Regions from separate parts of the Homo sapiens genome. Here region 2 is linked to region 1. A link means that fine-mapping ties the variant in region 1 to the expression of a gene that starts in the linked region. Tissue or cell type: whole blood. Region 1 holds a variant in brackets; the other region holds the start of a gene. All regions are shown on one strand. Distances are between the middles of the regions.

Region 1 (16,920 bases):
AGGAAGGAAAGGAGTTGTTGTTTTGTAGAAGGTGTTGGGGTTTGAGAGATCTGCTGGACATGATCGGCAGGGAGAGCACGTGTGTTTTTATGAGAATTATGCCAAGATAGGTAACAGATGAGGAAGAAATTTGGGCTTGACTGAAGTAATAGGGGCTGTCTGTGAAGCTTTGTGGCAGTACAGCCCAGGTAATTTGCTGGGCCTGATGGGTGTCAGGGTCAGTCCAAGTGAAAGCGAAGAGAGGCTGGGATGACGGGTGTAAAGGAATAGTAAAGAAAACATGTTTGAGATCTAGAACAGAATAAAGGGTTGTGGAGGGAGGTATCGAGGATAGGAGAGTATATGGGTTTGGCACCACGGTGTGGATAGGCAAAACAATTTGGTTGATAAGGTGCAGATCCTAAACTAATCTGTAAGACTTGTCCGGTTTTTGGACAGGTAAAATGGGGGAATTCGAAGGAGAGTTTATAGGTTTTAGAAGCCCATGCTCTAGGAGGCAAGTGATAACAGGCTTTAATCCTTTTAAAGCATGCTGTGGGATGGGATATTGGCATTGAGCGGGGTAAGGGTGATTAGGTTTTAATGAGATGGTAAGGGGTGCATCATTGTCACCAAGAAGGGAGTAGAGGTATCCGATACTTGTGGGTTAAGGTGGGGGGATACAAGAGGAGGATGCAAAGGAGGCTTTGGATTGGGAAGAAGGGTGGCAATGAGATGTGGCTGTAGTCCAGGAATAGTCAGGGAAGCAGATAATTTAGTTAAAGTGTCTCCGCCTAATAAGGGAACTGGGCTGATAATTAAAAAGGAGTGATAATTAAAAAGGAGTGCTTAAAAGAGTGTTGTCTAAGTTGGCACCAGAGTTGGAGAGTTTTAAGAGGTTTAGAAGCCTGGCTGTCAATACGTACAACAGTTATAGAGGCAATGGAAACAGGCCCTTGAAAGGAAGGTAATGTGGAGTGGGTAGCCTCCGTATTGATTAAGAAGAGGACAGACTTACCTTCCACTGTGAGAGTTACCCAGATCATCTGTGATGGTCCTGTAGGCTTTCGAGGTGATCAGGCAGTGTCAGTCTTCAGCTGCTAAGCCAAGAAGGTCTGGGAAGGAGTCAGTCAGAGCCTGGGGCCAGAGTTCTAGGGGCTCTGGGAGTGGCTGCCAGGTGAGTTGGACAGTCCGATTTTCAGTGGGGTCCAACGCAGTTGGGATACAGCTTAGGAGGAATCCCAGGCTGTGGGCATTCCTTGGCCCAGTGGCCAGATTTCTGGCACTTGTAGCAAGCTCCTGGGGGAGGAGGTTCTGGAGGAACCCCTGGCAGCTGTGGTTCAGGCTTTTGGAGTTCTTGTGTGCTGGAGACGTGGCTGGGGTTTGTCTCAATGGAGGCAAAGAATTGCAACTCAGAAATACATTGCTACTTGGCTGCCTCTACTCTATTATTGTACACCTTGAAGGCAAGGTTCATTAAGTCCTGTTGTGGGGTTTGAGGGCCAGAATTTAATTTTTGGAGCTTTATTTCATGTCGGGAGCAGATTGGGTAATAAAATAAAATGCATATTGAGAATAAGACGGCCTTCTGACCTTTCAGGGTCTAGGGCTGTAAAGCATCTCAGTGTTGCTGCCAAACGAGCCATGAACTGGGCTGGATTTTTGTATTTGATGAAAAAGAGCCTAAACGCTATCTGATTTAGGATAAAGAAAAAGGAGCATTAACCTTGACTATGCCTTTAGCTCCAGCCACCTTTTTAAGAGGAAATTGCTGGGCAGGTGGGGGAGGGCTAGTCAGGGAACAAAACTGTAAGCCAGACCAAGTGTGAGGAGGGGAGGTGATAAAAGGACTATAGGGTGGAGGAGCAGAGGCTGAGGAAGAATCGGGACCTAGCTCAGCCTGGCAAGGAGGGGAGAGGTCAGATGGGTCTGTAGAAAAGGAAGATTAGAAAGACTCAGCGACGCTTGGGGTTGGGACTGAGGGGACAGGCGGGAGGGAAAGATGGAAGATTTGGGACTAGTTGCATTGGGAACAGAGACTAGGGAGGGACCAATGTGTAAAAGAATGCCTGGATGTCAGGCACCTCAGACCACTTGCCCATTTTACGACAAGAATTATTTAGATCTTGTAGGATGGAAAAATTGAAAATGCCATTTTCTGGCTATTTGGAACTACTGTCGAGTTTGTATTGGGGTCAAGCGGCATTGTAGAAGAAAATAAGGCATTTAGGTTTTAGGTCAGGTGTGAGTTGAAGAGGTTTTATGTTTTTAAGAACACAAGCTAAGGGAGAAGAAGGGGGAATGGAGGTCGGAAGCTTGCCCATAGTGTAAAGGAAAATTACAGTCAAAGGGAGTTGTTCTCTGGTGGGCAGGTGTTGGGTCACAAGGTGCTCAGCAGGGGAGCTTTTGAGCCAGGATGAGCCAGGAGAAGGAATTTCACAAGATAATGTCATAAGTTAAGGCAGGAACAGGCCATTTTCATTTCTTTTGTGGTGGAATGTCATCAGTTAAGGCAGGAACTGGCCATCTGGATGTGTATGTGCAGGTCACAGGAGATATGATGGCTTAGCTTGGGCTCAGAGGCCTAACAGTAACTACTTTTGTTCATCCACTTATTCATTTATTCAATCACAAACATTTATTGACAATACTTTGTGTTCTGTTTGGAACCATGCGAGGAATAGGGGTTATTGGGTCTGATGCAGTGTGTCTCTACCTTAACACTATTGACATTTAGGCTGGATAACTCTTTGCTGTGAGGAGCTAGTCTGTGAATTGAAGGGTGTTTGGCAGCATCTCTGGTCTCTACTTACTGGGTGCTAGAAGCAGCACCTAGTCGTCTCAACCAAAAATATCTTTGACATCACTGAATATCTCCTGGGGGTCAAAATTGCCCCCAGTTGAGGATCACAGATCTAATGTATAAAACATTGCTTCTGACATCAACATTAAACAGAAGTCAGTAAAACTGATAACCACAACAACAATTAAAATGGATGAAACACCTCCATTTGGTCAGGTTTTTGCCAGGTACACAATCTTATTCAATGCTTACAACAACTGTATGCTATAAGAGTAAATATTTATTTATGGATCTCTAAAGGTTTATAATGGGTAAGTCTATATTTCCATATGTGTTAATTATAACCTTCTAAAAGCAAGAATCAATATTTAAAATGTTTGAAGGGGAATGAGGGCACCTACATTTTAAGTGATAGCACAAGCTAAAATTAAAAGCCTAGTTTTAAAGAAGTGTTAGATTATTTTATATAGTAGAAATGATAAAGCAAAAAACTCTCGTATGATAATACGTGGCTAAGGTTTTTCCTTTTTTGTGCTTTAGTTTATATTGGCTACATTTTTCACTGTATGCATTGTGTGTTTCTTTTTAATAGTTTTTTTTCTGAACACACATTTATGTTAATGTTTTTATTGAATAACACTTACATTGTACCTTTCTTATCACTGATACAATAAACATAACAGGATTTTGGGGGACTTCAGAACAGTAATTAATACTTGAGTTTCAGAGTACAAAGTCACCTTAGTAGGCATCAAATCCAAACTACCCAGTTTATGGATGAAAAATACAAAGCTAACATTGGGGAATTGAATTGCTCTAGGTTAGAGGGTTTGCAAACTATGGCCTATGAGCCAAATTTGGCTTGTCACTTGTTTTTGCAAATAAAGTTTTATTGGAATACAACAAAGCTCATTTGTTTACATATTATCCATGGCTGCTTTCAAAGTACAACAGAGTAGATTAGTTGCAACAGAAACTATATGTCCTTCAAAGCCTAAAATATTCACTATCTGTCCCTTTACAGAAAATGTTTGTCTAGGTCATATCAAAAACTAGGGCTGGTGGAGGACTTTGAGTTGATGTGTCTCTTACTGGACAGCAGCATGGTGGAGCAGAAAATCCCTGGGCTCTAGAATCAGACAAGGTTTTGAATCTTGTCTCTGTCATCCACAAGCTGTGTGGCCTTGAACATGATCCCTTTGAGTCTCATTTCCTATTGAGTAAAATTGGGATGAACACAGTCTGCAATTTTGTTATGTGGTTTATAAAAAGTTGATAATGTCTCTGATGTGTACTCAAAATAGATGATATTAAAATACAATGCCCTTTCAACTGAATAACTGCAGCTTTTACTCATTTACTCAATAAATATTTAGCAAAAGACCATTGAAGGTACCTTAATAGGGACTGAGGGTACAAGAAAGGTAATGACAGACATGGCCTCTAAATTTCATTTCAGCCAAGTAGAGAGTAGGTATGAGAGGGACCTAACCCAGACCTTACTCAGACATGGTTTACTGAAGGAGAGTACATTTAATTCAAGACCTTAAGCAAGCATAGGAATTAACAAGTAGAAGAAGATGGAAGTCGGGTAAGGAATGTTTCAGGCAAAGGAAAGGACAAGAGTAAAAGTCCTAAGATTAGTAAGTCATTGTACACTGAAAGAACTACAGAAAAAAAGGTCAGTAAAGTTTGCGTGGGAGTTCAATGTTGGGAGAAAGTGGGGAGAGATATGGTTGGGAAGGTGAACATGATGCAGATTCTAAAAGGCCAATGGAGCACGTAGCGTTAGTTGCCTACCCAACAGTCACAACCCCCTTTCTCAATAACAAAATCATGATTTTGTACACCTGGCAAAATGCCCACCTTAGGGAAGGCAGCAGATGTATCAGTGATTGGTCTGAGGTGAGCTAGTGATTGGGATATGGCCAATGGAAGAATTTTGAGGTCTTTAAAAAAAAGTTTTCCAATCCAAAAATAGGAGAGTCAGGTAAGGTGGCTCATGCCTGTAATCCCAGCACTTTGGGAGGCTGAGGCAGGTGGATCACCTGAGGTCAGGAGTTGAAGACTAGCCTGGCCAACATGGTGAAACCCCATCTCTACAAAAATTAGCCTCCCTGATGGCAGGTGCCTATAATCCCAGCTACTCGGGAGGTTGAGGAGGGAGAATCACTTGAACCCGGGAGGCGGAGGTTGCAGTGAGCCGAGATTGCACCACTGCACTTCAGCCTGGGCGATACAGCAAGACTCTGTCTCAAAAACTTAAAACAAAAAACAAAAACAAAAACAAAACCCAACAACAACGACCAAAAATAAAAATAGGAGAAAGCACTTTTCCTCCCTTTTCTCTCCGCTTTGGCTGCAGTCAAGTGAGACTGTGATGCCTGGAACTGTTGTAGCCTTTTGCCCTCATAATGAAAGTGAACAGGCTGAAGATAGAGAGAAGAAATGCATACAGATAGAATTCCAGGGATGATTTGTTGAGTTCCATGTTGTCATTCCAGGGCTAACTGTGGCTGTACACACCAGTGAACTTCCTATTACAGAAAGTAGGGCAAGATCAAAAAGGGCTCAAGTGCCAGGGTCAAGTGACATCCAAGAGGAAAAGCAAATGTAACAAAAGCTTTAGTCGCTAGTATCATCTCTCCTGCCGATGACAGAGTACCAAATGGATTAGATGATTAAATGGACTAGATGATGATTAATGGATTAACTGCAAATAACTGAGCTCCAAGTGACCCTTTGTAAGAAATAGCTAGCCTTCAGTGGAGGCCTCAATTTCCTCATCTGTAAAACAGGGGTGATAACAGAACCATCTAAATGGCTTGCTGTAACGATAAAATAGTATATAGATTTGGAGCCCCAGCATGGAGCCTAGTTCCTAGGAAGTGTTCACAATGGTAGGTGAAGATTATTATTCTTTCATCATTTTCTGTAAACTCATATGTCTTGAATGATTTTGACATTCTTAAAGAGTACCCCATGCTGGCATGAATCAGAACTTGCATGGACATTGCATAGAGGATTGAATGAGATATTCTTCAAAGCAGCTTTTTTTTTTTCAACCAAACCACATGTGGTGATTAATAGCATGTTGAGAAATTAACTTACTGTCAAGTAGTAAAGAAGAGAATGGATCAGAATAGGCAATATTGGACTGCATCCCCTGTGGTAAGGATAACAATTGTTTTATGAAAGTTTTTTGTTTATGTATTTATACATGTGTGTTAGCTTGTAATTGTAAAATGTACTTCTGATTGTGGAATGAGTTAAAAAATCTGTTTTGAAAAAGAATGCTCTAAGGTTTCTTGCAACTCCAGCTTCTGTGGTTGTTCTCAGATCGTGCGGCTCATTTCAGCATTCATGTTGCATAACAGTGCTACCTGCTGACTCATGGTCAGCAGGCAGTGGCCTGGTTGACTGGGGTTTTCTCTTCACCACCGCTCTGTGTTTTCTTTAGCAGCCCTGTTTCATTATTACAGAGAGCTAAGGAAAGTGAGTATCTTCCATAAAGGGAACTCATTACCCATTAAATTAAAATGGAAACTAAACAGGTATCTTGAGAGGTCTCGGGTGGGCTTTTCAGCCCAGTCCACAGGACAGTGGAGTCATAGCCTAGAAGGTAAATGGCCCATATCCTATGAACAGAGTTACTTTGCAGGTTTTGCAGTTATAGGATGGATTTCTCCATAGGCATAATGAGTCCCTCTCATTTCCTCTTTTAATTGCAGCCTGTACTATTGATGTTGGGGACTGTGAACTGGGAATTTGGGCAGCAGATTTTCAATGGAAAAAAAAACCAACTTTTATTTGACCTTTTCTTTTTTCTGGTCACTTAAGAAGAAAAGAGAACTGAGAAAAATATGTAAAATGTATATATATAGATACGTGGAGATATTTATGTAGCACCTGCTCTATTTTCGAACCGTCCCATTGCCTACAATAGATGATTGCCTAAGTGCTATAAGTGGTGCTGCGGAGGAAGACAGGATTAGAATCAGACACTTTGTTTTAGAGTTCCTACTCTGTTCACTACTTGTGTGAACTTGGACAAATCACTGACTTATTCTGAGCTTTGTTCAGTAATAAAAGCTGCATTTTCGGGACTACCTGCCACGTGTCAGGCACATTACAGATGTCAATTCTAAACCTGAAAGCAACCGTGAGAGGTAGTTGAATATATTAAGTGACAGTTTAGGGCTATGTGGCCAGTCAGAACCAGAATCTAGAGTTGAATGTAAATCTCCTTGGTTCTGAAGCCCACAGATTTTCCATTATATTTCTCTGTTTACCTTAAAATGGAAATTAAGATAAAAATGCGTGTCAACTCCCAAGGTTGTCTTAAGGTGAAAACTAGCTAAAGTAAATGTAAAATTTTGATCACTGTTAGTTACTGTGATTATGGCCATTATTATTTTTAGGAGCACGAATAAACCTATATATGCTTATTGTTACAGAACCTCTTATTATACGCATACTTTTATTAATGTTTATTTATGTGCTGTTTCCTGCCCTAGACTTTGAGAGTCTTGAAAGAAGGAATCCTGGCTTATTTGATTGTGTATTGTTAGTAACTTACACAATGTTTAGCATATAGTTAAGTGCTCAATATTTGGTCTACTGCAATGAAAATATGTATAATTTCCACTCTACAGAACATTTCTATATTTAGAGCCATATCTGTGTTTTCAGAATTCATCTTTCAAATTGCAAAAAGTTAAAAAGGGGTTGGGAAAATATGTATCAACATATTGATAGAGATTATAGATAAGTTATCTTCTTTCTTTTTCTTAGATTTTGTAATTTTGTTTCATAATTGTCTTTTAAAAATATTTTCTAATTTTCCTTAATATACATATTTTATTTATGTAATTAATATTTTTGGTTGTTTTAAAACAAATTCACTAGAAGGAGTAAGATATTGATTCACTGAAAATGAGATACATTAAGACCATTATTTTATCAGATAAGTTTTGAGGTCCTGAAATTTGAAAGGGATGGAATAGAAGGTAAACAAAGGAGAAGGTTTGCAACTTGTGTCTGCGTTGGGACAAGGAAGGGAAATTTCCTAGGCTGCCAGACTTCTGTATGAATCATAGAATTTCATTTGTAGGGGGTGGTTGAAGTTAACTCATGACACTACCTCAAGAAATTCTTTTCATGGTCTCTGACGGATAGTTGTATATCTTCTAAGTTAGTATTCCTAGGGATAAAAATACCAGCTACCATGCAGAAAATCCTATTTCATTGTTAGTAAGGAAAGATTGTGACAATGCTCCACAAGTAGAGTTAAACATTGCCTTTCTGAAGTCTTGACTGTTGGTCCCACATAGGCCCTTCAGTGGCAAAAAATATACAGAATATTATTTCCACTTCCCTGGGTCTTAGCTACACCCCACTGAACACATC[C/T]TGTCTGTTAACCACTCCAGATATGCTGGCTCATAGCTCTTTCACCATTTTGGTTGCCGATTTCTACACAGAGGCTTTATGGGGATGACGAAGGGATAGGCTTTGGAGGCGCACAGATCCAAGTTCTAATCTGTGCTACATTCCCTATGAGCTGTGTTAAAGCAATAGTAAAAAGTACAATAATAATAACAGATAAAGATGATGGTAATGACAACAGCTGACATTTTTGGGTGCTTTCTATGAACTAGTTACTGATCAATGAGCTTAAAAATATGTTATTTTTAACTGACAAATAATAATTGAGGTAGCCATAGTCCCATGTACACTGTAGCATTATTCACAACAGGCAAGATAGGGAAGCAACATAAGTGTCCATCAAGTGATCAACTGATAAAGAAAATGTGATATAAAAACACAATGAAACACTATACAGCCTTCAAAAAGAAGGAAATCTTATGACTTGTGACAACATGGGTGAACCTAGAGGACATTATGCTAAGTGAAATAAGCAATGGGCTTTAAATGCAAAATCTCATTTCATTCTCAAACTCTGAAAATATGGGGATAGCAGCAGTAACCCATATGGAGTTGGGATGTGGTTTAAATAATATAATGCATATGAAGTGCTTAGAATATGAGTACTAGAATATAATGAGCACTTCATAACTATATAATAATAACAATAACCATGGCACCCACAACAGGCCATTATACCCTAAATGGGGTAACTTCTGCAGAGTGCAGGGGGATGGCAGCTCTCCTATCTGTACAGCATAGTAGTATTCATTGGTGAGAATGGGAATGGAAAATAATTGACAGTAAGTGGGGCAGAGGGGGAAATAAAAGACCAGAGTTATGTTTCCAGATCAAGTTGATCTGTGTAGCCATTTTGTCTGGAGCCAAGGATCTGAAATTGACTATTTCAATTAGTGACTACATTTTAAATTGTTTTTTTTTTCAGGATCATATTCTGGGTGCTGGTGTATGTGTAGGAGGGTCCTCAAAATGTCTTCTGGTAGTATGATTAAGGATTAAGAGCATAAACTCTGTGGAATACTATACAGCCATAAAAAAGAATAAAATCATTTTGCAGCATCATGGGTGGAACCGGAGGCCATTATCCCAAGAGAAATAACTCAGAAACAGAAAATCAAATGCTACATGTTTCCACTTATAAGTGAGAGCTGAGCAATGTGTACACGTGGGCCTACAGAGGGAAATAGTAGTCACTGGGAACTCCAAAAGGGGGAAGGTTGGGAAAAAAGAATATATAGAATATTATTTCTGTACATTATAATATTTCTGTATACTGTAATATTATTATTTCTGTATACTGAGCTTGGGTACAATGCTCACTATTCAGATGGTGGGTACACTAGAAGACCAAACCTCACCATTATGCAATATAGCCATGTAGCAACCATGCACATGTAACTCATAAATCTAGTAAACAGTGAAAAGGAGTATAAGCTCTAGGGTCAAATTACCTCTGTTCAAAACCTGCCTCCAGAGTGTACCACCAGTTCGTCCATCTGGCCAGCTTTCTTAACCTCTCTGTGCCTTAGTTTCCTCATCTATAAAATGGTGATAATAATCCTATGGGCCTTACTCAGTTATTTTGAAGCTTTAATGAGTATTAATAGGTATAAAAATCCCAGAACACAGCATGAAAAATGTTGGGTATTTTTACTTTCTTGTGGAATAAGGAAGAGATAAGATCAGAATTATTCTTCCTTCCTGGACCAGCTAGCTCTTTGAAGGAAGCCTCAGCATCTCACACACACACACACACACACACACACACACACACACACACACCCTCCAGTCTCTAAGCTCTAGAACAGAGATTTCCTTTGAAGGTGTCATGTCCAAACTATCCTTGGCCTTGCTGCGCGGCAGGACCGTTCATTATGAAATCGCCTCTCACTGCAGGAAATCTGAATGCGGCAATATTGAAATGCCTGTGTGAGAAAGAACATAAAGTGGAGGTGCGAGGCAGAGCCCCAGTGAAAATCCACAGGCTGGCGCATAAGCAGAATGCAGCCCTTTCGTCTATCTTATTAAGAAATGTTTCACAGACAGCCTGGATTAGATTAGTGGAAATGTTAATTTATCTTCTAATGCTATAGTCTGATTCTCTCTGTGTGTGAAAGATATGTTTTGCTTAAATCTATTTTTTAATAAATCCTTACGATATTGTTCAAGGTAATTGATGGTGGAGGTATAGGACATTTCTCAGTAATACACAAACAAAGCCAAACTCAAATCATGTAAATTGCTTCATTCGTAGGGATAAAACTAAATTGCTTGGCAAGGCAGGGAGTCAGAGAAAACAGAAAAGATCCAGAGGGAGCAGTGGAGGAATGATGACTGCGTTTTTCTTATTATTTCTGCATCTGTCAAAATGGAATGTGCCCCCCTCCTATTTTATATTCTTAACTCTATATACAAGACAATCAATGGTGTTATAAATAAGTCTGTTTTTGTTATGGGTATGAGACTGCCCAGGAAATGGAATAGAAAATTACTTTCTAGTCTAGCCTCAAAATCAATTTTTTCCAAATTATTTTTCTTACAACACTTCTATTTGTCTCTTGGAATTTTTTTTTTCATTTGCTCTCACCCCTCCCTCTGTTAAGGTGCTCCGCTTTGTCCTTTTGTGCTTATAATCTGTATTATAAAATCAAGCCTATAAGTATGCATTGTTATTTTTCTCATCTAGACTGTAAGATTCTAGAAGGCAGGGCCATTTCTTATACTTCTCTCTGCCCTCTGGAATGTAGTACAATGTCAGCAACCTGATAGTCATGTAGGAGAATAAGGATCTCACACTTTGCAAAACGCTATCACACAGCAACGCTGCACTGAGGCCCTATTATGTGTCTGACAGTGAGCTAAGTGCTTTCTGTCATTCATTCTTCACCCATAGTGATTGCCCTCGTTGTCATGCGGGGAGGTTCCTTTTACTCTTCTCATCCCAACCCAACTGTCCTTGAGCCAAGGCTGACCCGTTTAGGGAAAGAGAGTGCCTTAATCCATTTGGAGTGCTAGAACAGAATACTATAGACTGGGTGGCTTACAAACAACAGAGATTTGTTCCTTGCAGTCTTGAAGGCTGGAAGTCCAAGATCAAGGTGCAGGCAGATTTGGGTTATCTGGTGAGGGCCTGATTCCTGATTTATAGGCAACTGTTTTTTTTTTTTTTTTTTTTTTTTTTTTTTCTGTGTCCTCACATGGTAGAAGGAGCAAAGGCATTCTCTGGGAACTCTTTTATCAGGGCACTAATGCTGTTGATGAGGACTCTACCGTCATGACCCAGTCACCTCCCAAAGGCCCTGTGTCCAAATACCATTACAATGGGGATTCGATTTCAGCAGATGAATTTGGGGTGGGGACATAAACATTCAGTCTATTGCATACAGTAATCAAAGCTGAGCCAGTCGGATGCTTCCTTGTAGAAATGTGAAACTGGAGTGGAACAAATGTCCCGTGGTATTGCCCTAGAAAGAAAGTTTCACAGGCTTCACCAGCCAAAGTTCCCTTTCCAACCTGGACAGGAGATTGCCTTAGACTATGTGAGTTGCTTCAATTTTCCAAAAACCTCAACTCCAATTATCGGGAATTGTTTGATATACAGTGTTAAATGATTTGCCTCCAATCCTCTGGCTAATGAGTAGAAGAAGTTTCATAGACCCCAAAGCTCTTAATCTTTACTATCACACACAGGGAACTTCTTATTTCAATCTCACAATAGTCTCATAAAGTAGAAATGCTACTCATCTTCACTTTGCATTGTGAAATACAGAAGCTCAGAGAGCTCACCAAGTTTAACATCCCAGGTGATAGGTGATGGAACTGATCTTGAACTGACTTCTAGCTTCTCACAGAGTCAGCTTTGGAAGGGATTTATTGAATCTCCACTATGTTCCAGGCTCTTTCAAAAGAATTTTTACAAACGAGTTCAGAATTACTTTCTACAGAAACTATTTGTTCCGTGGAGATCAATTCCATACTCAAACCCTTCCAAGGGAAGCTGAACCATCGTCTTCCCCCACCCTGCTTTCTTGGAGGTCAGATCAAGGTAGCTAGGACTCAGTGATGTGACTTTGAATAGAAAAGTTAACTGGGTCAATGTCGTTCCTGCCACCAGGAATTTGAAACTGGAAGCTAGAAACAGAAGCTGAGACGTATGGGTGAGGATATGAAGAAGGGGCAGTGAGGTCATGTTAGTTCTGTGCAGGCTTAGGTGATAAGGGAAGAGAAACCAGGGATAGGCACGTGAAGCCTTATGTCAGAGAGAGGAGAATGGAATCCTTGTGCAGAAAGAAGCAGAGAAAGAGAGGCACGGAGATACACACAGACATAGTCACATATGCATACACACACACAAGCCTGTCTAAAGTAGCCAACAGCCAGCTTAGCAAGGGTATGATGAACTAGAACAGAGCTCCTAAATGGGAGGACTGGTACCTGAGCAGGACCTCAGTACCTGCGCCACCTGACATTACTCCAGCTGTTATGTAGGAAAATCTGAAAGTCAATGAAGACCCCAGCAGAAAGATAGAGCAGTTGGGGCTAAGAACCTGAGGTGGGATGGAACTTATTTATCAACTAGTTTGAGAGTTTTTCAATATTTAACAGCTTGTATGTTTTCACTGGCAGAATATCAGGTCCATAAACATCTTCCCCTCCCTGCATACTACTTCACAGTGTGGCCCTCGAGAGAGAGTGTAAAAAAGTAGTTGATCTCTAGAGCTGTTTCCATCCCTGATAATGTTTTACTTCAAAGTCCCAGTTGTGTCCCATGCAAATTCTTATATTTATATATATCAAATGCTGCTTATTCCCTGTGTTTAAAGTCTGGCCACCTTAAAAAGTAAAATAAATAAATAAATAACCTGAAATGATAAGAGCTTATAAGGGGGATTTAATCATGGGTCTTGGGACTCCAGGATTCTTTCTGTAAAACCATGGTTATCTCAATGTGGAGCAAAGTCTGGAACAAGAGAATTAAGTGGTACCATTTGTAATAAGAATCACAATCAGTGCACTGAACTGAAGCCCTCTGTTTTACTCCTCAAATTCTCTCTCAGAGACCTGATTGGTTCTTAACAGTTTGTAGGGAGCTCAGCTACTGCATCCACAAATTGTGTCAGCAAGCATAATGAAATATTTTGAATTGCATTATAAACATTTCATGTGTGTAACCTTTAGTTCTCTGGAACATTTAGAATTTGGTTCAACCTGGACCCATATGCATTTGTTGTTTTTTTTGAGAATCACTATATGGAGACTGTTCTAAACTCTGGAGAGACTTAGGCTCTGGAGAGACTAAGCAGGCAGGTACCCATCCTGGAGATGTTCACAGCCCAGGAAAGGAAGTCAAGGAGGTGGAGGAAGAAAAACAACAACAAAAAAATTGACTAAGTATATTATCATTTAATCCATTCATGAAACACATATATGCAAAATGATGTGTTTTAAGAATTTTATTTCATTTTTCAGATGAAGTCTCACTCTGTCACCCTGGCCAGAGTGCAGTGGCATGATCCTGGCTCATTGTAGCCTCTACTTCCTGGGCTCAAGCAATTCTTGTGCCTGAGCCTCCCGACTGGCTGGGACTACAGGCGTGCGCCACCATGCCTGGCTACTTTTTGTGTTTGTAGTAAAGACAGGGTTTCACCATGTTGGCCAGGCTGGTCTTGAACTCCCAACTTGGGGTGATTCACCTGCCTCCACCTCCCAAAGTGCTGGGAGTACAGATGTGAGCCACCGTGCCCGGCCTGTGCTTTAAGAATTTTAGAATAGTTGCCCATTGGGAAGGTGGTCTGAGGAATATGAGTAGGTATGGAAATAAAGGGAATAATTAAATATATTAAGCAATTTTTAGAAAACGAGAAAAAGAAATATATATATTAATGAAAAACAAGCTATTTCACTCAAATTGCAGTTTATGAGCAAAAGCAACAGAATAGCATTTAGTCTTCCAATTGCACAAAGCTTGTAACTTTCAGGACTAAATCTGAGGGAGCTAAATTCAGCACTGATGCCCGGACATGGAAGCAGGGAAAGAGGGCCAGGGCAGCAGCAGAAATGAATGGGAACATGGACCCAGCTGTGCCCTGCTCCTACTGGCTAAGGAGATAGGTTGATCAACCCATGAGGGCAGACCAGCAGCCAGTTGATACCACATTCACATGGCATTGATGTCTGTAAGTTATTTGCAATTTATTGAGCATATTCAGTACGTTCAGGCTTACGGTTACAACTCGCCCTATAAGCAAATTAGTTTATAGTGGTTTCTTTATGTGACCATGAGCTTAAACTTCTTTGGTGTCAACTGATGCTGAGATCAATTCCATACAGCATATCAGGGGACCCTGTTCAGATATCTCATGATGAGCCGGGACTCAAAATGAGTGGCAGAAAGGAATGAATATATGTTGAGTGTGTACTCCACACCATCTCATTTATTCGTTAGAGTATAGCAAAGTATTACTGTTCTCATTTTCACACAGGAGACTTAAGACTTGCAAAGATGAGTTCACTTGCCCAAACCATAAAGTTCATTAGCAATGATTCCAGGATGTGAACAGAATCATATCTAACTTCACAACTCATGCCCTTCAACTAAACCCCACAGGAGATCTACCAGTGCCCACCTTGTACAACTTATATTCCCAGAATATTTGTTCACCAGTATTATGATCTCTTCATTAATTTCAGTGCATCCTGGACTATAGCTATACTTCAGATATAGCTATGGAGAATTTTTATATATTTCTTTGAGTCACTGCTTCTCAAACACAGCTCCCTCACTCTTGCAGCTGTGGCTTTGTTTAGGTAACGAGCCTGGTCACCATTTCCTCATCACTTATTTCTCTCTACTCATTTAAATCTTCAAAACTCAAATCATGGTCTCATGTGCTTTCCTTATGACTGCCCCATGACCTCAAGCCTTCCTGCATCCTTTGCACCGGTTGGTAGTCCCAAGCATATATTTTTGCAACTAATTATGTCCTGCTTCAAAATATCCCCTAATTATTTACACTTGTAAGTTTCATCTGTTCAACTACATACATATGGATTCTGTGATATCCTTGTTGATTGCTCTTTAACAAATCCTAAGATAGTCCGGGATGTGGTTAAGAACATCATCTTTCTCTACCCTGCTTCTGCTTCTCTTTATCTCAGTGCATGGCACTCCCAAACTCTGGTTGCCAAAGTAACAGCCAGAAGTCACCCTGGAGCCCTCCCGTTTCCACGTGGGCCCACATTTAATCAGTTGCCAAGCCCCATCAGTTCTACCATCCTAGTACCTTTTATCCTTACTGCTGTTACTTAGATTTAGGTCACCATCATCGCTCACTGGACTGATGCAACAGCCTTCTAACTGGTTTTCCAGTTAGAAGAGAGCTATCTTGCTCTCTCCAATGTGTGGTTCATACTGCAGACAAATTGATATGTTTTATTTTTATAAAATGGAGATTTGATAATGTGTCTCCACCATTGGCTCCCATTGCCTTGGGATCACTGTCCTTAGAAGATCATTACCTTAAGGGATTTTCAGTGATGAAGATCACGAAGACCAGAAGGGAAGAGGCGGGAAACTTGCTGCCCAGGCTCCTAGGTCAAATGAGAATAGGCAAAGAAGACCTGCAGGTAACTGATTTTTAGTTCAGCTGGCATGTAGGAAGACCTCAGATACTGAAGGCAGAAGCTGCTTTCAGATGCAGTGGGTACATTTGGTAGGAGCTTCTGGGGTCCTCCCCTGGGGAAGTGAATGCAAGAGAAAAAGCATAAAAATACAAGGGTTTCCCTCAGACACCCTCACCTGGGCTGGCTTCATACTTTGCACTTGCTGTCCTTTCTGCCTTGGATTCCTTTTCCTCAACTAATTGCAGTATTGCATTCTCATTTCCTTATGAGAGACTATTTCTGACCATCTTATGTGACATAACCAACCTCTCCAACATGAAACTCCCCATGCCTTTTGCCCTGCTTTGCTTTCTTGCCCTACATTTATTCACTGTTTGTCATTCCATATATTTATTTGTCATATCCCTTATTCTAGAATGGTCTGGAAGCTCCTACTCTGTGCTTTCAAATTTATCCTGTATTGTAAATGCTTGTTAATTTTCTGTCCCTCCCCATCACTCTAGACTATGAGCTCTTAAGGGCAGGAACTTTACTTCTATAAAGGATATATTTCACTGCTATATCCTTTGGAGTATCTGTCATTACAATTGACCCTAGAACAATGCAGGAGTTAGGAGTGCTGACCCTCCCCACAGTCGAAAATTTGTATATAAATTTTTACTGTCCCCAAACTTAACTTCTACAAGCCTACTGTTGACTGGAAGCCTCACCACTAACATAAAGTTGTTTAACACACATTTTATATGTTATATGTATTGTATATTGCGTTCTTACAATAGAGTAAGCTAGAGAAAAGACAATGTTATTAAGAAAATCATAAGGAAGAGAAAATCTGTTTCCTATTCCTTAAGTGGAAGTGGATCATAATAAAGGTCTTCATCCTCATCATCTTCACATGAAGTGGGCTGAGGGGGAGGAGAAAGAGAAGGGGTTCATCCTGCTGTCTCAGGAGTGGCAGAGGTAAAGGAGGTAGAGTAGACAGAAGGGGAAGCAGGACAGGCAGGCACGCTTGCTGTAACTTTTATTGAAAAAAATCTCTGTGTATAAGTGGACTTGTGCGATTCAGCCTG
Region 2 (16,920 bases), 86 kb before region 1:
GTAACTGTTGATTGCGAGAGCATATAAAACCCCTCAAATGGCCGGGAGCGGTGGCTCACACCTGTAATCCCAGCACTTTGGGAGGCCGAGACGGGTGGATCACGAGGTCAGGAGATTGAGACCATCCTGGCTAACACGGTGAAATCCCATCTCTACTAAAAATACAAAAAATTAGCCGGGCGTGGTGGCACATGCCTGTAGTCCCAGCTACTAGGGAGGCTGAGACAGGAGAACTGCTTGAACCCGGGATTTGGAGGTTGCAGTGAACAGAGATCTCACCACTGCACTCCAGCCTGGGCGACAGAGCGAGACTCCCTCTCAAAAAAAGAAAAAAAAAAAAACCTCAAATTCTGGCTTTCTCTTTCTCCAGCATTATCTCCTACCACCTACATAATCATTAATGTAGCCCCATGTCCCCACAAGTGGGGACAGACTGAAAGATGAGATCTGGGCAGCAAACAGGGCAGTGTCAAGCCAAAGGTCACTGCAAAAAAGAAAATTCATCAGCTACAACTCTGGCAGGACACATAGGTGGTGGGTAGAAGAAGGGAGGAAGGAGGGAGATGGGAGGGGAGGGGAGAAGGAAGCAAAGGGACAATGAGGAAAGGGGGGAAGAGGGGAAAAGGGGAGAGAAAGAATGAGAATATGAATGAACACAAAAGGCTAATAATCCAGTAATATGAAAGTGTAGGTCAAGTTTGCATGTAATGTGTCTCTAAAAGGAAAACACTTCAATCAGCAACCCTCTTTTATAATTCATTCTGCATTTCTTTCATAAAAATAAATTAAAAAATAAGTTAAATGTAATTAGCCTCATCAAAAGAAAAACAAACATGGAGTAACCATATTATTATTACAGCCTAAGAAATTTGCCTAGACCTCAACGTCAGTACCTAAATGAGAAAAGAAAGCATTCAACACACATAATTACTCAAAGTATAGTTTAACAGCAAACAATATTTGAGAGTTTTGGTTTTCCCTAGAAAATATAGAATAACTTTTCATATAAAATAAAAGAGCACATTTTACCGGACCTGTTTTGAGGCAAGTTATCTGTGAACTCAGGAGCCATTTTCACATAAGGAGTTTACTAAAAGTTTAAGTTTGTGTCTATATAAACAAGAATCTACTTAGCACACCAGTGATATCCACAGCTTTTCCAAAGATTTCTGTGACAGGATGGAAGCAAATGCATTCTTGTAAGTTCACAGAACGATTTAAATTTTTGACCAAGCTTACATTTGTCTTAATGTAACTCAAGGGGAAAAAAAGGCTAAACTATTATCAATTTAGTGCTAGAGAAAAATTAATGTTACTATGCTCACTGTGGTTACTGATTATAGGGGCCAGTTCTGTGTTCAAGTCATGGTTTTACTCCATGGAAACTCTCAGAAGGCTCAGCTTCCCGATACACAACATAAAATGATGAAGAAGCTTTAACAGTCGTTCCAACTCAAACTCCGATTCAGAGTTTGAAAATCTTTCAAATAAAACGCTTCTTAATGGTCCTTTGAATGGAGAATGAAATAAAGGCCTCTAGAAAAATGATGTGTCAAATTATAGGTTTACAGGTTTGCAACAGCATTCAGCAGCATAGTCTTGAAATCTGTGCCTAAGGATTGTTTCAGACTACAGGCTTGTAACACGACCACAAAATTGTTTCTGTGTCCTGGCAGTTTCCTGTCAGGCATCCTTCCAGGTGGTTGCTTTCTCAAAGAGTCTACGGATCTCCAAAATAATTCTAGTGAAGTGGCTGTTAATATTCATGAGATATATCATTGCTTAACCAGTGGGGTTACTGCATGCTTCACTGGATTCTAGTTATTAACAACAGTTTCAATGAGTACCAATATTCCAAATAAGCAACAAAATAGCAAGAGTAGAATAATTCTATGACTTACAGCAAGGGTTGCTCTCGGAATTGTAGAGTCTGAGAGACCACAGTGATCACCTCCAACCCTTTGATTTTAATTAAAACTCGTACGGATTAACTGGCTTGGGCTTATCACTAAGCCTCTCAACCATTTAACATTAAAACAACCAATCAAACAAAAACACTTAGCTTATCTGAGCACAGTTTTCCTCCTAAGAGCTGTGAACTTCCTCCTAAATTCCTACAGAGAATAACAATTTTGCCATCTCTGTGTTGGATATATATTCTACAAACAGAATTTCAAAGAAATATTGTTGTCCACTGCACTATCCCAGCAATTTCGGCAGCTGTGACTGCCAAAGGAGAGAAAAGGCAAATATGAACACTATTCACCTCACACTGGTACCCCCAATCAATCCACAGCACATTTTTATTCAGTCATAAAAAATGTACCATGACAAATATTAACAATGACAGATAAAACAAACATTTCACTTGTCTTCCAGTCAGGGTGTGAAATCTGCATTCTTAACTATGTAAACTCCACCATGGCCCATCCTAAAATCATTTTGCAGAATGAACTCAACATTTGAAAAGAAACGAGTTTACTATATCCACTCTGTGAAGCTAGATAACCCTAGAACATAACTAAAAATTTTATTTCACAGGATAATTCTGGCATGTTACCAATAAATTCTACTTGAAGCCTCAACTTTCAATAGGTGCTTACCTCCTCCCCTTTGGTTTCTCAGAAAATAAAAGATTAGCATAGTGCTAGTCTCAGATATTCACTGAATAACGTGAACATGAATTTAGAAGTACTAAACTGGCAATAACAATGAAGATGATTGTAAATGATATTCCTCCAGCCAAAAGGAATAAAACAGAAATTTAAACTGGACATATTTACTGGATGCGAAGTCCAAGAACGTGAGTTAAGGACACACAGTAGTGTGTGAAGAAAACAAAATCCACAGTACCCACACATGTATGAGGAGTTAAAAGTAATCTCTACATCAGGACTATGTAAAGATTTGCCACAGGAAAATCTTTAAATCTCAAAAAGATATTTAAATATCTTTAATATCAATTTAAATTTAATATCCTTAAATATCAGGAAAATATCAATCTTTATAATATCAAGAAATAACTCATCTTTTCCCACCACTAGACGAAACGTGCATTGGAGACTGACCTGGAAATTCAGCGTCCCAGATGGCTACAAAACAAGGACAACTAGAAGTAGTTATGAATTCTAGGAAATATATTCACAAGTGTGTAAAGATTCTATAGTATTGAACACTTAGTCAAAGGAGTCCTACTTGAATTCTCAAATCAATGACAAAGTTGCTTCCTCTCTACCCAAGATCAGGAGCTTCCCTAGTTTGCACATATCCACATTGACCAGTGGCTATAAAGTCACACTGCGATTATCTGGGTCATTTTAAAATAGGTCATTAGCAGTACTTGTAGTATCGCGTCTGTCTAAAAATCCTCCAACACCGAGTGACTTTTAAACTTTGGGGTGCCTTGGTAACCCCAGGGACGCTTATTAGACATGCAGACTCCGGGGCCCAAGCTCCAGACTAATTCCATGGGAATAGGGCGGGTCCCGAAACCGGCATTTTTAATCATCTGCCCGGGTGAATCCGAAGTGTGGTCCAAAAGCCACAGTCGAGGTGCCTCTGCCTAACAAGCTCCACAGAAAGCTCCGACTTCAGCCGCCCCGACGGCGATACGGACGCCGAGTTAGGCTGTCGGGGGTCTGTCTGGCGGCCGCGGGAAGGGACTCGGGGCCGGCGCGTCCACTAGCGACGTCCGGCCCGAGGTGAGAAGGGACTGACAATGGTACCGCAGTTATTTTCAATATTTCCATAAAGTCCCACGAAGCCGTGTGGCCGTGGGAAAAGGGCTTTAACTTTGAAATCCCACGGGTCAGGTTACCACCAGCTCTGCCGCCTCCTAACAGCGCGTCCCCGCAGTTCCCTTAACGTTCGGGCCTCAGTTTCCCGATCCGTGCAACGGGCTCACGCCATCTCCGGAAGGCTAAGCCGAAACGAAACTAACTCCGCCGCTCGCAGACACTTCCTGGCTCTGCTCAGCGCGGCCCAGCCTCCCCAGCCGCCCGGGAGGAGTACCCGGCCCAAGCGCGTCGCGCAGGCAGTCGCCTCCCAACGCCCCCGGCCCTCGGCCGGCCACTCACGGGTAGGCATGGCGATCTCGACCGCGCTCGCCGCCGCACCGAGGCTCAGCGGGGCCGCGCAGGGAGCGCCGACGGCACCATGACGGCCGTTGCTGGGCCGCGGAGGCCGGAACGAGGCGAAGGGCGAAGGGCGAAGGGTGGAGGGAGCGGACGCGGACCCCGCGGTCACGCAACCAAGCGGGCGACAGCTACCGCCGCCAGCCCACTCCTCGCCGGGCGGCGCGACGGACGACCCACGCCCGTTACGTCAGCGCGCCGCCGCCGTCCCGGCCCCGCCCCCGCGGATGGCCGGGCTCGGCCCAGGATCCCTTGTCGAGCGGGTGGAATGGGTGGCTGGGGACAGCCACGTAGAACAACTTCGGGTGCCTTCTATTTTCCAAGCCTGGTGACCTGCGTGGCATTCGTTTTCCTTGATCTCTATTTGGAGTGCATCACTTTACGTTTGTGAGGATGATGGCTTTGAGCGCACGGAGTACCTGTGGGCTTTTTCTTTTGCAATCGGTTTAACTTGCAGTGCGTTTTGCATACTCTGAAAGCATGGTTTATTTGAGATGCACTAAGGTCATTTGGGGTGATGGCTGCTCATTTTTTGAGAGGGCAGAAAATGTAATTTCCTTTTGCTCTTGTGACTTTCAGAGCGACCTTATCCCTCAGGAGTTAGTCTCCTCTGGAGAGGGCAGCTCTGTGCACTTGGCTGAGCTACTCTTCTTGACTCTGGGTGTCATTAATAATTGAGGTATCTAATAGTCACCAAGCTGAGCAGACACCGGGAGCCAGAGAGCTGAGCAACGCACCTACACTATGCTAGGCGCCGTGGGCTGCGGACAGCCCATATGGAGATATAAAAGCCAACCGCAGAGGTTTAACACAGCCTTCCTCAAAGTGGGTCAAAGTGGTCCAGGATCCTTTTGTGCTTGGATCCCCTGGGGACTTGTTGAAAAGCAGATTCCTAGGTGCTGAGCCAAATCTACGAACACATATACAGATGATTTAAATACAATGATAATACTGAGAACCTTTGTCCTAAAAAGTAGGGCTAACCTTCTGATTAAGAAATGATATTGTGCAGTACTGGGAGGAGAAGATGAAGAACATGAAGATCAGAGCTAGGAAGCGCTGAGGAGAAATTAGTCTTGGCTTGAGGTGGACTTGGAAGAAAGCAGAATTTGAATTAGCAAAGCCTAGGGGAGTCCTAAAAGAGGCTGGGGAGAGGATGAAGGGTAATTTAGAGTGAGTCATGGCAGCTGGGGAGAGGAGAGTGTGTACTGTACCTATAAAAGAGACTGTCCAGCTGGGAACGGTGGCTCACGCCTGTAATCCTAACACTTTGGGAGACCGAGGTGGGCGGTGGGCAGATCACCTGAGGTCAGGAGTTCGAGATCAGCCTGGCCAACATGGCGAAACCCTGTCTGTACTGAAAATGCAAAAATTAGGCGGGGGTGGTGGCACATGCCTATATTCTCACTCAGCTACTTGGGAAGCTGAGGAAGGAGAATCGCTTGAACCCAGGAGACGGAGTTTGCAGTGAGCCGAGATCGGGCCACTGGACTCTAGCCTGGGCTACAGAGCAAGACTCCATCTCAAAAAAAAAAAAAAAAAAAGAGAGACTGTCCCTTGCTAACAGTAAAGACCAAACTACCTAGTGCTTATTCATGTTTTAATGCCCTGTTGCATATTTTATCACCTATAAAATCTTTCATGCTTCCAGTTTTCTCCCTAAGACTTTGGCATTATCTTGATTCCTCTCTGCTACAGCACTTTTCTCACTGCATCCTAAATAAACTGTCATGAGTGCTTGTGTTTTACCATGGGCCTATTTGCTTTTCAGAAAATGGCAAAAGCCATATTCTGTTCATGTTTATGTATCCTTGGCTGGCACACAGGTGGGGGCCAGAGTATATTAATTCAATATATAAATAAAGGATTTTATTCAAGAGTATGAAAACAAAAACAGGTAAATAAAACTGATAAACAACTTTACATTCAACCTTGGAATTTGTCTTTTAAGAAACTGTTCTGTGATTTTTACAAAAAGCATAACAGTAACATTAAATTATCAGAAGCAGGGCCTTGCAGGGGGAATGGTGTGGCAGAGAAACTGTGGAGGTAGGCAGCCAAATCGGAAGGCCCCAATACAGGAGAGAGTGTTAGGTGCTCAGTCTTGGTGGTGGCTGTGGAAAAAGAAAGAACTGAATCTTACTTTGGAAAAGAATCCCTGGATTTGTTGGCTGCTGACTTGGGAGCAATAGAGAGGCATCTGTTAGTTATGTAACTCCAAGGTTGGAACAAGGAAAGTGGTGGTGCTGGAGAGCAGTAGACCAGTCAGGAAGAAATGCTGTTTTAGGGAAGGGGTGTGAAGAAAGGTGTGAGTTTCTCCTTGACATATTGAGCTTGAGGTGGTATCAGAGGGAGACATCCGAGTGAATGAATCTGAAGGCAGCTGGGCAAGCCAGGATGAAGGTGGGCTGAGGGACCTCAGGGTGGGAGATTTGGAAATCTTTGGTCCCGGGACAGGAGCTGAAGCTGGGTGTCAAAGAGAGCCCTTTTAGGGAAGATGTGGAGGCAGTGAAGGCACAGAGAGACGAGATCCACAGGATACAGTGCCCCAGGAGCCAAGGGAAGACATGACTCCAAAAGGCAGACATCTCTGCTTACATTACCTTGAAAAAGATGCAGATCCCAAAGGCCCTGAAATTGTCCTGCACATACTGGTTGTTTTTTTGTTTGTTTGTTTTTCATTTCTTTCTGTTTTTAATCCTCTTGGTCTTTTGGTTTTGTATTGTTGCCAGAAATAAAAATCAGCAGCCAAAGATTCTGAGGAAGGACAGCTGAATGTCAGGAAAAATAGTGTCATAATGTTTTGATTATATATACAGTACCTACGTGGTTTTTTTTTTTTCCCTAGTTTGTGCACATTGGTAGCAATGTTACCATACTCTTTCCCTAACCTATCCTCTGGATCCGAGTTCTGCCGGTGTATCCACCACAGCCAGCCCCCGCTTCCTTTTTGATTTTTTTTTTTTTTTTTGAGACAGAGTTTCACTCTGTCGCCTAGGCTGGAGTGCAGTGGTGCAATCTCACCTCACTGCAGCCTCCACCTCCTGGGTTCAAACAATTCTCCTAACTCAGCCTCCCAAGTAACTGGAACTACAGGTGCATGCCACCACGCCTGGCTAATTTTTGTAATTTTAGTAGAGACGGGGTTTTGTCATGTTGGCCAGGCTGGTCTCAAACTCCCAGCCTCAAGTGATCTGCCTGTCTCGGCCTCTCAAAGTGCTGGGATGACAGGTGTGAGCCACCACGCCCGGCCCCCTACCCCCTACTTCTGAGAGCAGAGAGTCTGCCGTCATCTTTGGTACTTGGTCTTACCCCTCTTGGTGTATCCCCTTTTGCAAACACCCTTCCCCTTTCTATCCCCTCTGTGTCAGTGCTCCTCTCTTGGAGCCCAGTCTGGGCTGACAGGAACGAGGATTTAGCCATCTCTCTTGGTGCCCACACTGCCCAGCTCTTGTCCTGGACACTATGTGTGGTAGACATGGAGACGAGTCACCAGATCCCTTTAAGAGAAGACACACTGCCTTGGCATTTGAGCCACTTTAGTGTTTGAGCTTGGTATTTGAGGTGATGCTTTTGTCAGGGTGCAGGGCAGGCAGAGTGCCCTTTCTAACATGCAAATCTAATGATACCTCTGATATGGTTTGGATATTTGTTCCCTCCAAATCTCATATTGAAATTTGATCCCCCACATTGGAGGTGGGGCCTAGGTGGAAGGTGTTTGGGTGATGGGGGTGGATCCCTTATGAACAATTTGGTGCCTTCCTTAAGGTAATGAATAAGTTCTCTGTTGGTTCCTGCAGTATCTGATTGCTAAAAATTGTCTGGCACCTCCTTTCCCTCTCTCATGCCATGTGATGCCTCCTCCCTTCCCCTTCCACCATGAGTAGAAACTCCCTGAAACCCTCACCAGAAGCAGACACTGGCACCATGCTTCTTATACAGTCTGCAGAACTGTGGGCCAAATAAAGTTCTTTTCTTTATAAATTACCCAGCCTCAGGTATTCCTTTATAGGAATGGAAATGGACTATGACCTCTCACCTGCTAACACTTGTCTATGGCTCAGTAGAGTGTTCAGTCTACAGTTCAAAGCCCTTAGCTTAGCACAGGAAGCCTTTCAAGGCCTGACATTGAGAGCTCTTCAGTTCCCCTACATTGCAACTTACGCTTTGCTTCCCCTGGTCCTAATGAGTGCACAGTTCTCAGAAACCACTCTGCTGTAGCACTCTTCCATTCTTTTGCCCATGCTCTTTGCCCTGCTGGAATGGGCTTTTCTGTCCCCTGCTCTAGCTAACTTCCAAAGTCCTTGTGAGTGTTTGGTGTAATTAAGTATGCCCTATGACCTGGAGATCATCCTTCTGGGAATATATCCTGGAAAATTTCTCACCAGGGTCCACAAGGAAGATGGATAAAAAGGTTAATTGACGTGTTGTTCATGGCAATGCGGAGTTGGAGGCCACCTAGGCGTTTGTCACTTGCAGAACATGGTGGATTCATACGTACTGTGGATGCACATCAGCAACATGGCTTGATCTTAAAAATGCAGAATTGGCCAGGCTCAGTGGCTCACGCCTGTAATCCCAGCACTTTGGGAAGCCAAGGCGGGTGGATCACTGGAGCTCAGGAGTTCGAAACCAGCCTGGCCAACATGGTGAAACTCCGTCTCTACTAAAATAACAAAAATTAGCCAGACATGGTGGTGGATACCTGTAATCCCGGCTACTTGGGAGGCTGAGGCAGGAGAATCGCTTGAACCCAGGAGGCAGAAGTTGCAGTGAGCCAAGACCGTGCCACTGCACTCCAGCCTGGGCAACAAGAGTAAAACTCCGTCTCGAAAAAAAAAAAAATGCAGAATTAAGAAGCATCAATATTTATAGCACAGTACTATTTATGTCATTTTTTAAAAAACATGCACGTAGAAAACATGGATCTCAACAATGATATATAAGGAGGTGAAGGGAAAGGGAGTGAGAATAGGGAAATAAAATTAGCAAAAAAAGGGCTTTGAACAGAAAGACGACAGTGTACAATGAAAAAGGAATGTGATTGCTGCAGTCTTTGCAACTGATTTTTTTAAAAAAGAAACAAATTATTTTCAAATATCACTAAGTACAAAAAGACCTTCCAAGACTTCTAAGTTGGCTTTAAGGTGTTTCTTTCAAGTTCCAGAGCTAATTTGCATACCTCCATCCTGTCTCTGAAGGGCCCTAGTGCTTCTTGCGGTACATAGCAGATATTGGGGACTCCCAGTAACTGTGGTGGATCCTAAGGAGGGCTGCTGAGGCCTGCATGTGCAGGTGGGATAAAGAACCAAGGTAATGTGGGCATTAACTTGTCCTTATTTATACATATAGGCTGGTCAGGACTGGGACATTTGTTACCTCATTACCTATATATTAATCATTACTAATAGTACCTGTTTATTTTGTTTAAACTCTTCAAAAGCCAATGTTGAGTTCAAATCAAGAAAGACATTCACTAGCACTTAAATAGAAGAGTACTTTCTTTTTTATGTTTTCTGGCACATTTTCAGAATACATGCCATTAAAAATAGAAGTTCTTTGTCCCTTCTTTTATTCCTTCTCAGAAAATAAGAGGTCAAAATAATATTAGAAAGGTCGTTGTTGATATCCTATTAGAGCATTGGCTTTTAGCTCAAATTGTCCAAAATAGCTCTGTTTCCAGTTTAGTGTAGTATTTGTTCCAATTTCTAAATCCTGCACTGAGAGAATTCACTTTTAATTAGCATGCATTTTAGTGCTTCAAAGGTAATTGCCAGCAAATTTACAGTTTATAGGAAATAATTAATAAGGCTATAGATTCACTCCTCCTAAAAGCTTATTCCAAAAAAGTCATAATGATGCAATCTGATGCTCTCATTGCTTAGTTTTTTTCTCACAATACATATCAATAATATGCCCTTTTTTTCATTTCATTCCATTTCATTTTACCATTGATTAATCATAACTTAAGGCTTTCCAGTTCTTATGAGGCATAAAAAACACAGACTTTAGACACAGAAAACCTGAGTTTGGATTCTGCTTTCCCCACAAAGGAATTGGAAACACTTATGAAAACATACAAAAAAGATAAGTCTTGCTAAAGTAAATTAAGATGCAGACCAGGTCTAAAGAACCCCTGAGCAGATAAAACCAGTTAGGCCTTGTGAGTGAACTAAGCCTTGCTTGATTTGCAAATGTAAGTAAAACTTAACTTGAGCTATTTCTTGTAAATGCTGAAATTCAAGAAAAAACAGAACTTAAGCTCAACCAATCAGAAGTTATCAACAAATTTATATAACTAGGGACTTTCTAACAGAATAAACCAAGTATGGGGACTGTATAATTATAATCAATCAAATATTTTATTTGCTTTACTTCTATGTCCATCCTATAGAAACCTTCCCCTGGTGTTCCCTCCGAAGATTCATGCATCGCTATTTGTGCAAATAAACTCTTTAAAATTTTATTATGCCTCAGTTTACATTTTCTTCTTCTTCTTTTTTTTTTTTTGAGATGGAGTTTCGCTCTTGTTGCCCAGGCTGGAGTACAATGGCATGATCTGGGCTCACTGCAACCTCTCCCGGGTCTAAGCAATTATCCTGCCTCAGCCTCCCAATTAGCTGGGATTACAGGCATGTGCCACCACACCCAGCTAATCTTGTATTTTTAGTAGAGACCGGGTTTCAGCATGTTGGTCAGTCTGGTTTCGAACTCCTGACCTCAGGTGATCTGCCCGCCTCGGCCTCCCAAAGTACTAGGATTACAGGCATGAGCCACCACACCCAGCCAGCTTACCCTTTAACAGCCTCTAATCCAGAAGGTCATTGCCCAAACTTTTCGGTGCCAACTAGGACACTGTGCAAGGCAGACACTCCCGATCATGTCATGAGCCAAATGTCTCAGTCATCTCTGCTTTATAAAGAGAATTGCAAATGGGTGGAGCAAAATCTTGAGATAATCAGGTTAAGAGTTCTTGATTAAATCAGACAAAACAGCTGGAAACCCTTCCTTAGAAACACTATCATTTTAAACAATTAGAGGAAAGCATTAACTCTCATTGTTATTTACTAAAATGTTAGCTAGCTTTAGCATTTAACACAGAGTGTAGGGGAGCTGCTGAAAGGAGAGAAAAAAATCTTCTAAATATGGTCTCATGCTAGGCAGTGAGTTTTTTACAAGACTTTTATGACAATTGGTATCAAATCTTATTTATTGCTGTATCTCCTGCACATGAAATATTTTATTTAATAAATATTTGAGGAAGTGTGGGAATTGGAGGAAGAGAGGGAGGGAGGAAGGGGAAAAACATAAAGGGCAAGCATCACAGAGAGGTCAGTTGAAGTATTGAAAGGAGATCTTTGTGGTAGATTAGAAAAATCGCTTAGATTTTTTTTACCTCTGGCTATATCTACACTCTTGCAGTTGATTTGGGGATACCTCCCCCGAAGAGATAATTTTTTCCTCATCTCTGAGTCTGCATTGTCCTTGTAACTTGCTTTGACCAAAGAGGCAGTGACAAACATTATGTGAGCAGAGACTTAAAAAGGGTGAAGAAGCCCAAACTTTCTATTTGAAGAGAGAGGCGCCAATCCTCCTAATCATCCCAGATGAGGCCACCATATATCAGTCAGCCCCTGCTGGTCACCCAGCTAAACAAGAATTCAAAAGTCAGCCTAGCCAAAAGCCACATAAGCACCACCCAGCTGAGACCAGCCCAAATTGTCAACACACAGGAGCACGAGCTGAAGAAATAGCTGTTACTTTAAGCCACTAAGTTTGGGAGTGGTTAGTTATGTATCCCCTAATCACTATTACTAGTTTTCACTATAACTGTTGCTAATAATCAATAGCGTATACAAGTAATCATGGGTGGTATAATTTATCAAGCTTTTAGTACGTGCCAAATACCATGCTAAGTACCTTAAGTACATTTTCTGACATAATCCTCACAAAACTGAATGGATACGCTTAAGTATACCTGTTGTTTTAGTATGAGGAAACTGAAGCATGGAGAGATTAAATAGTTTCCCCAAAGTCACCCAAGTCAGTCATGACCCAGGAATTTGAAATCAGGCCTGTCTGCCCCCCGCAAACCCAAGATCTTCACCACAGACAGTATGCAAAGTCATCTGAAGAGCAAATTAGAAGGCCCAATAGGAGATGCATACCTACAACGGGTGGATTTAGAGGCAATTATTGTCTTTTTTCCAATCTGTTTTGCAGAAAGAATGTCAAACCCTCCAGAGGAAGAATCATGCTTTCCATCTGTTTCTAATTCCTTAAAAAAATGCCAGTAGGTTTTGTATTGAGTCTCCTTTTAAAGGCTTGAAGCTGAATTACAATCACCATGTAATTGTTTGTTTTTCTCTCATTTGGGAAAAAGATAGAAATAAGAAATTGGGACTGTTGACTATTGGTTTCAAACTATAACTGTTGTTTCAAGCAAGTTCTAATTGTATCAACCTTCATCTTTCTCAGAAAATAAACTTTAAAATATTGCAATACTTGTACATTCAATACTTGTGCATTCCTATGAGAAATCTTTGTCCATACATTGTTCCATCTTGGTCTTTAATGTAGCTAGTAAATGATGAGTGGGTGGAGGATAGTTATTAAATTTGCCTCAAATAAGGCAATAGAGTTATGATTAGCTATTATTGCTACTAATTATATTTACCTTGAATCTTGAACTGGCAGGGGTAGTTGGGGGGTGGGAGCAGGAAGTAGTTAGAAGTAAATCCAGAACATTTTATACCTTTAAAGCAGAAACCCAGTTCAACCAAATCCTATTTATATCTAATGAAATAAGGGAGAGAGGTGGTAGACCTGCTTGGAAATATGGAAAAATACATCTCACAAGCAGATTGCTGAAACTAGTGTGGATAATTCTGGTTGTTGTATCTTATTGTTTTTATTAGAGAATCAGGGGCATTGTTATGTTATAGACCACTTTGAGTGGTCTATAAGTCTCTTTGTATCCTAGATTTTCAACAAAGTGTTTGTTTTAAAAGAGCAAGAATTAGGCCTAACACAGCAAAATAAATTCTCAATGTTTTTGACAAGTGCATGAATCGAACTGCCTTGCTAGATCCAGAAACATGCACTGAGGTAACAGGGAAGTGATGGAAGCATCCGAGAGCCAGTATCCTACTGTGGAGGTATCTAATGTGAGCACAAGAGATGCTCAGAGCTCAAGGAGTTAAGTTGCAAAATCAAAACACCAGATTTGCCCAATTCTAAGATGATTTTTTTTTCTCATTTAAATGTTTCTGGAATAAGAATACAACTGACATTTGATGTCAGCTGAAACTTGCCAGCTATGGAAGGAAAGGTATAAATTTCTGCTCCCTAGCACTGTAGCTGTTACTGTCTGACTCAACCATACCTAGATCCAGGCAATTGTCCCAACAGTTATTTTCACTAATGTCATCACACGTGATTGAATTTTAATGTAAATTTGAATTCAATCAAATCTAATTGTTCCTTAAATTGGTTCAAAAATACCACACTATAATGCAGCATTTAAACAAAAAGTTATTGTGTGTGCAGGCAATGAGCCTAAAGTCAGTAAAAAATGGCTCTCTCTAAATCACAGCTCTGTTTAGATTACAGGTAATAGAGCATAATAATAGATAATTTTCAAAGCTAGGCGAGTTGTTGTCACTGAATGATGCAGCAAGCAATCATTCATCACCCAGAGTTCTATGGCTAAATACTTCCAATTGGTATTGAGAGGCCAGGTGTGGTGACTCATGCCTGTAATTCCTGCACTTTGGGAGGCCGAGGCAGGCAGATCACTTGAGGTCCAGGAGTTTGAGAACAGCCTAGCCAATATGGCGAAACCGTGTCTCTACTAATAATACAAAAATTAGCTGGGCTTGGTGGTGTGTGCTTGTAATTTCAGCTACTCAGGAGGCTGAGGCATGAGAATCGCTTGAACCTGGGAGGCGGAGGTTTCAGTGAGTGGAGACTGCGCCACTGCACTCCAGCCTGGGCAATAGAGTGAGTCTCCATCTCAAAAAAAAAAAAAAAAAAAAAAAAGAAAAGAAAGGAAGAAAGAAAGAAAGATAGATTACTGGTAACCACAGAGTGAGCTTTTTTAACTGAGTAACTCATAATAAATAAATGAAACAGAAACAAGGTAGGAAGGAAAGAAGGCTATAGAAATAGAAGTTTAGCAGCAAAGTGGAAAGGAATGTAGTTTCCCAACAAAGGGAGTAGTTGATCCAAGGAAACCCTATGCACTCATAACATATGGCCAGTGGAATTTCCCACTTTGCTCTCAAACTTAGTTTTGAACTAATTGTCCAAAACCACAGTGAAGTTTGCACACTTTTAAATGGCACCACTACAGCCAGGCTTGGTAGGATGCAGAATTCTGAACATAAGGGATCATTAGACAACTCAGATAAACAAGCACAGCATGAAGAATGAGCTGTGGGGAAAGAGAAGAGAGAAAAATGTCATTGATTTCTGTTGATATGACTGTTCTCCCACCATGGAGGTAAAGTAACACAATTTTACATAACTAAGCAGGTGACAGAGCTTAGACATTTAATAAGTCAGTTCTAAAATTGTCTAATTTAATTGCAAATCTTTTAAGAGTAGTTTCTCTCCATGGTCATTTATTCCAATATTCAATAAAATTGTTCTTAATATAGTCTGGCCTGCTTTACTTGTTTTATAACAGTGCTAACAAGAAAATAAAGCATTTCTTCTAAATCATATTAAGACATATTACGTTAACAAATTTAGTATAATCTCACATAGACCAACTACAGTTTCCAACTGCTATTATAATGACACAGGCTAGTGAAAAGCAGTTTTTGATAGGATTAACTAAAAATCTTTGCAGGTTTCAATGATTCCAGCTGGAGAGTAAAGTCCAATCTGTCTAATGGAAATGTTTTAAGAAGACATGCATGCCAATTATAGAGAAACTGTAAAATGCAGAAAAGTATTTTAAAAAATACTAATTATGTCTAATTCACCTCTCCCCTAAGTCATGAATAACATTTTGCCTCTTTCCTTCTGATTTAAATACTCTTGCTTTAATGCCAGGAGAAAGTAATGTCATGAACTTCAAGGAACTGTAAATGTGGAAAAGACAACAGAATTAATATCAAACGTATTTTCATTATTATTCTATTAATATCTCCATCTCTAGCCTATAAGTTCCATGTAGGCAGCAACCTCATCTTCATTTGTTCAATATCGTTTCCGTAGCATCTGATAGCCCCTAGTGCCGGGCACATGATATAAGTTCAATTAATCTTCATTAAATACATGGTATGTGTTAGTCAGAGTTCTAAATTTCAATCAATAGAAAGCAAGTCTGACTGATTTAAGCCAAAAAGGAATTCAGGACATGATAACTGGGTAACTCATGGAGTAGTCAGGAAAGCCTGAGGTTTCAGCTCAGTGGCTATAGACAAGTTACACGAGACTGGCCTGTGCAGCATCACCGGGCTGCTGCTTGTAACATAGATACACGATTGTCGCGAGCCCTGTTCACTGACACTGGACATTGCTCCTATTGCCTCTGGCTACTGAGGGTGCCTGCTGCTATTGCTGCTGCCTCCCACCACAAACAGAGATTCAGAGAGGCTCTGCCCTTTTTTTCTTTTGCGCCACTACCTTCTAATTCAAAGTTTGGCTTGGTTAAACCTGGTAGGTAATGTTGAGGTCAAGTACCTAGCTGTAAGAATGGTGGGAAAGCACACAGATGGTATTTTAAGATTCTAACAGGAAAGGAGGTCTGCTTTACCAGGGTAGATTTTCTATACAAAGGAGGCTTTACACACTGGACAGCAGAAAATCATGACAAATGCACACCCATTTGACTGCTCAACATCACCATATCCACTTTGTTTTCTCCACATTTTCACTGTCAACAAAAGAAAACCACAAAATAAACTGGTCAACAAACATATCACCTAATATAATGCAAACATGCCTCATAAACTTGACAATATTCTCATCTCCTCCCATGAAAAAGCCAACACAATGCTATTTAAGTTGCTGAATTCAACTTCAAGTCTAGGGTGTCTGAAGGTTCTTTATTCTCATTCCAGTCCAGTCATAATCCCATCTCAATATTCTGCCTTCCGTGGAAGCAAATGCTGAAGTTAACGATCACTCATCCACCTTATAAAACATAGCAGGACAGAGAAGAAAGAAGAAAATTAGTCAATATATTTGTGTATATGCAAGACAATGAGGAAAAAGTGTCAGTAGATGCTGAGAACTATTTACTGTAACTCTTTATAAGGTTGTGCTTGGTGTTTATGCATTTACGACTTCTCTGCTACACATTTCCTATTGCTTTTGACTTCCCATTTCCCATTGTGGGGTAATTAGTGCCGCCTTGCTTAGCTTGACAGAATTAATCACCCCCACCAACACCTTAACTCTTATTTCCCCCTGCTCCTCCAGTGAAGGAACCTGCATAGGGAGGTGGCAGCTCAGCTTCCCATTAAAGAAAATAGTGTTACGTGTCCTAGAGGGAACATTCTTCCCTTGGACACTAAATTTCCTAAACCATTGATGTCCAGAGTTGTGGTAATGGAATGCAATATACTCTGACTATAGAAGAAACAGCCGATGTATTACTATCTGGCTCACATTCATATACTACATTTTATATGCATAACTGTAACTCAGTCTTTTAAGGTAGTCCAAGAAGGTCAGGAGAGCCCAGGAAATAGGGTATGTGACAAGATTAGTGAATCCCATGGACTTAAATGTCTTTGTTTTTTTCACTGTAAAATACGATTCTTGTTCAGAA

The links. PIP is the estimated chance that this variant, and not a neighbour inherited with it, causes the effect.
Region 2: it holds the start of EFR3A, and the variant in region 1 is fine-mapped to the expression of EFR3A in whole blood (TOPMed, PIP above 0.99).

The regions. Positions count from the first base shown.
Region 1 is chr8:131,805,804-131,822,723 of GRCh38, reverse strand. No RefSeq gene overlaps it. Among named protein-coding and RNA genes, the nearest start is that of EFR3A, 90 kb to the left of the region's middle. RefSeq lists enhancers at 2,154-2,655, 6,031-6,180, 6,311-6,440, 10,833-11,353. The variant C/T (reference allele first, on the strand shown) is at 8,192.
Region 2 is chr8:131,891,479-131,908,398 of GRCh38, reverse strand. It overlaps EFR3A (EFR3 homolog A), which reads right to left and starts at 4,306. Exons shown (of 23, transcript NM_015137.6): 1 at 4,077-4,306. The coding sequence starts at 4,086. RefSeq lists an enhancer at 3,310-3,359 and a silencer at 3,930-4,409.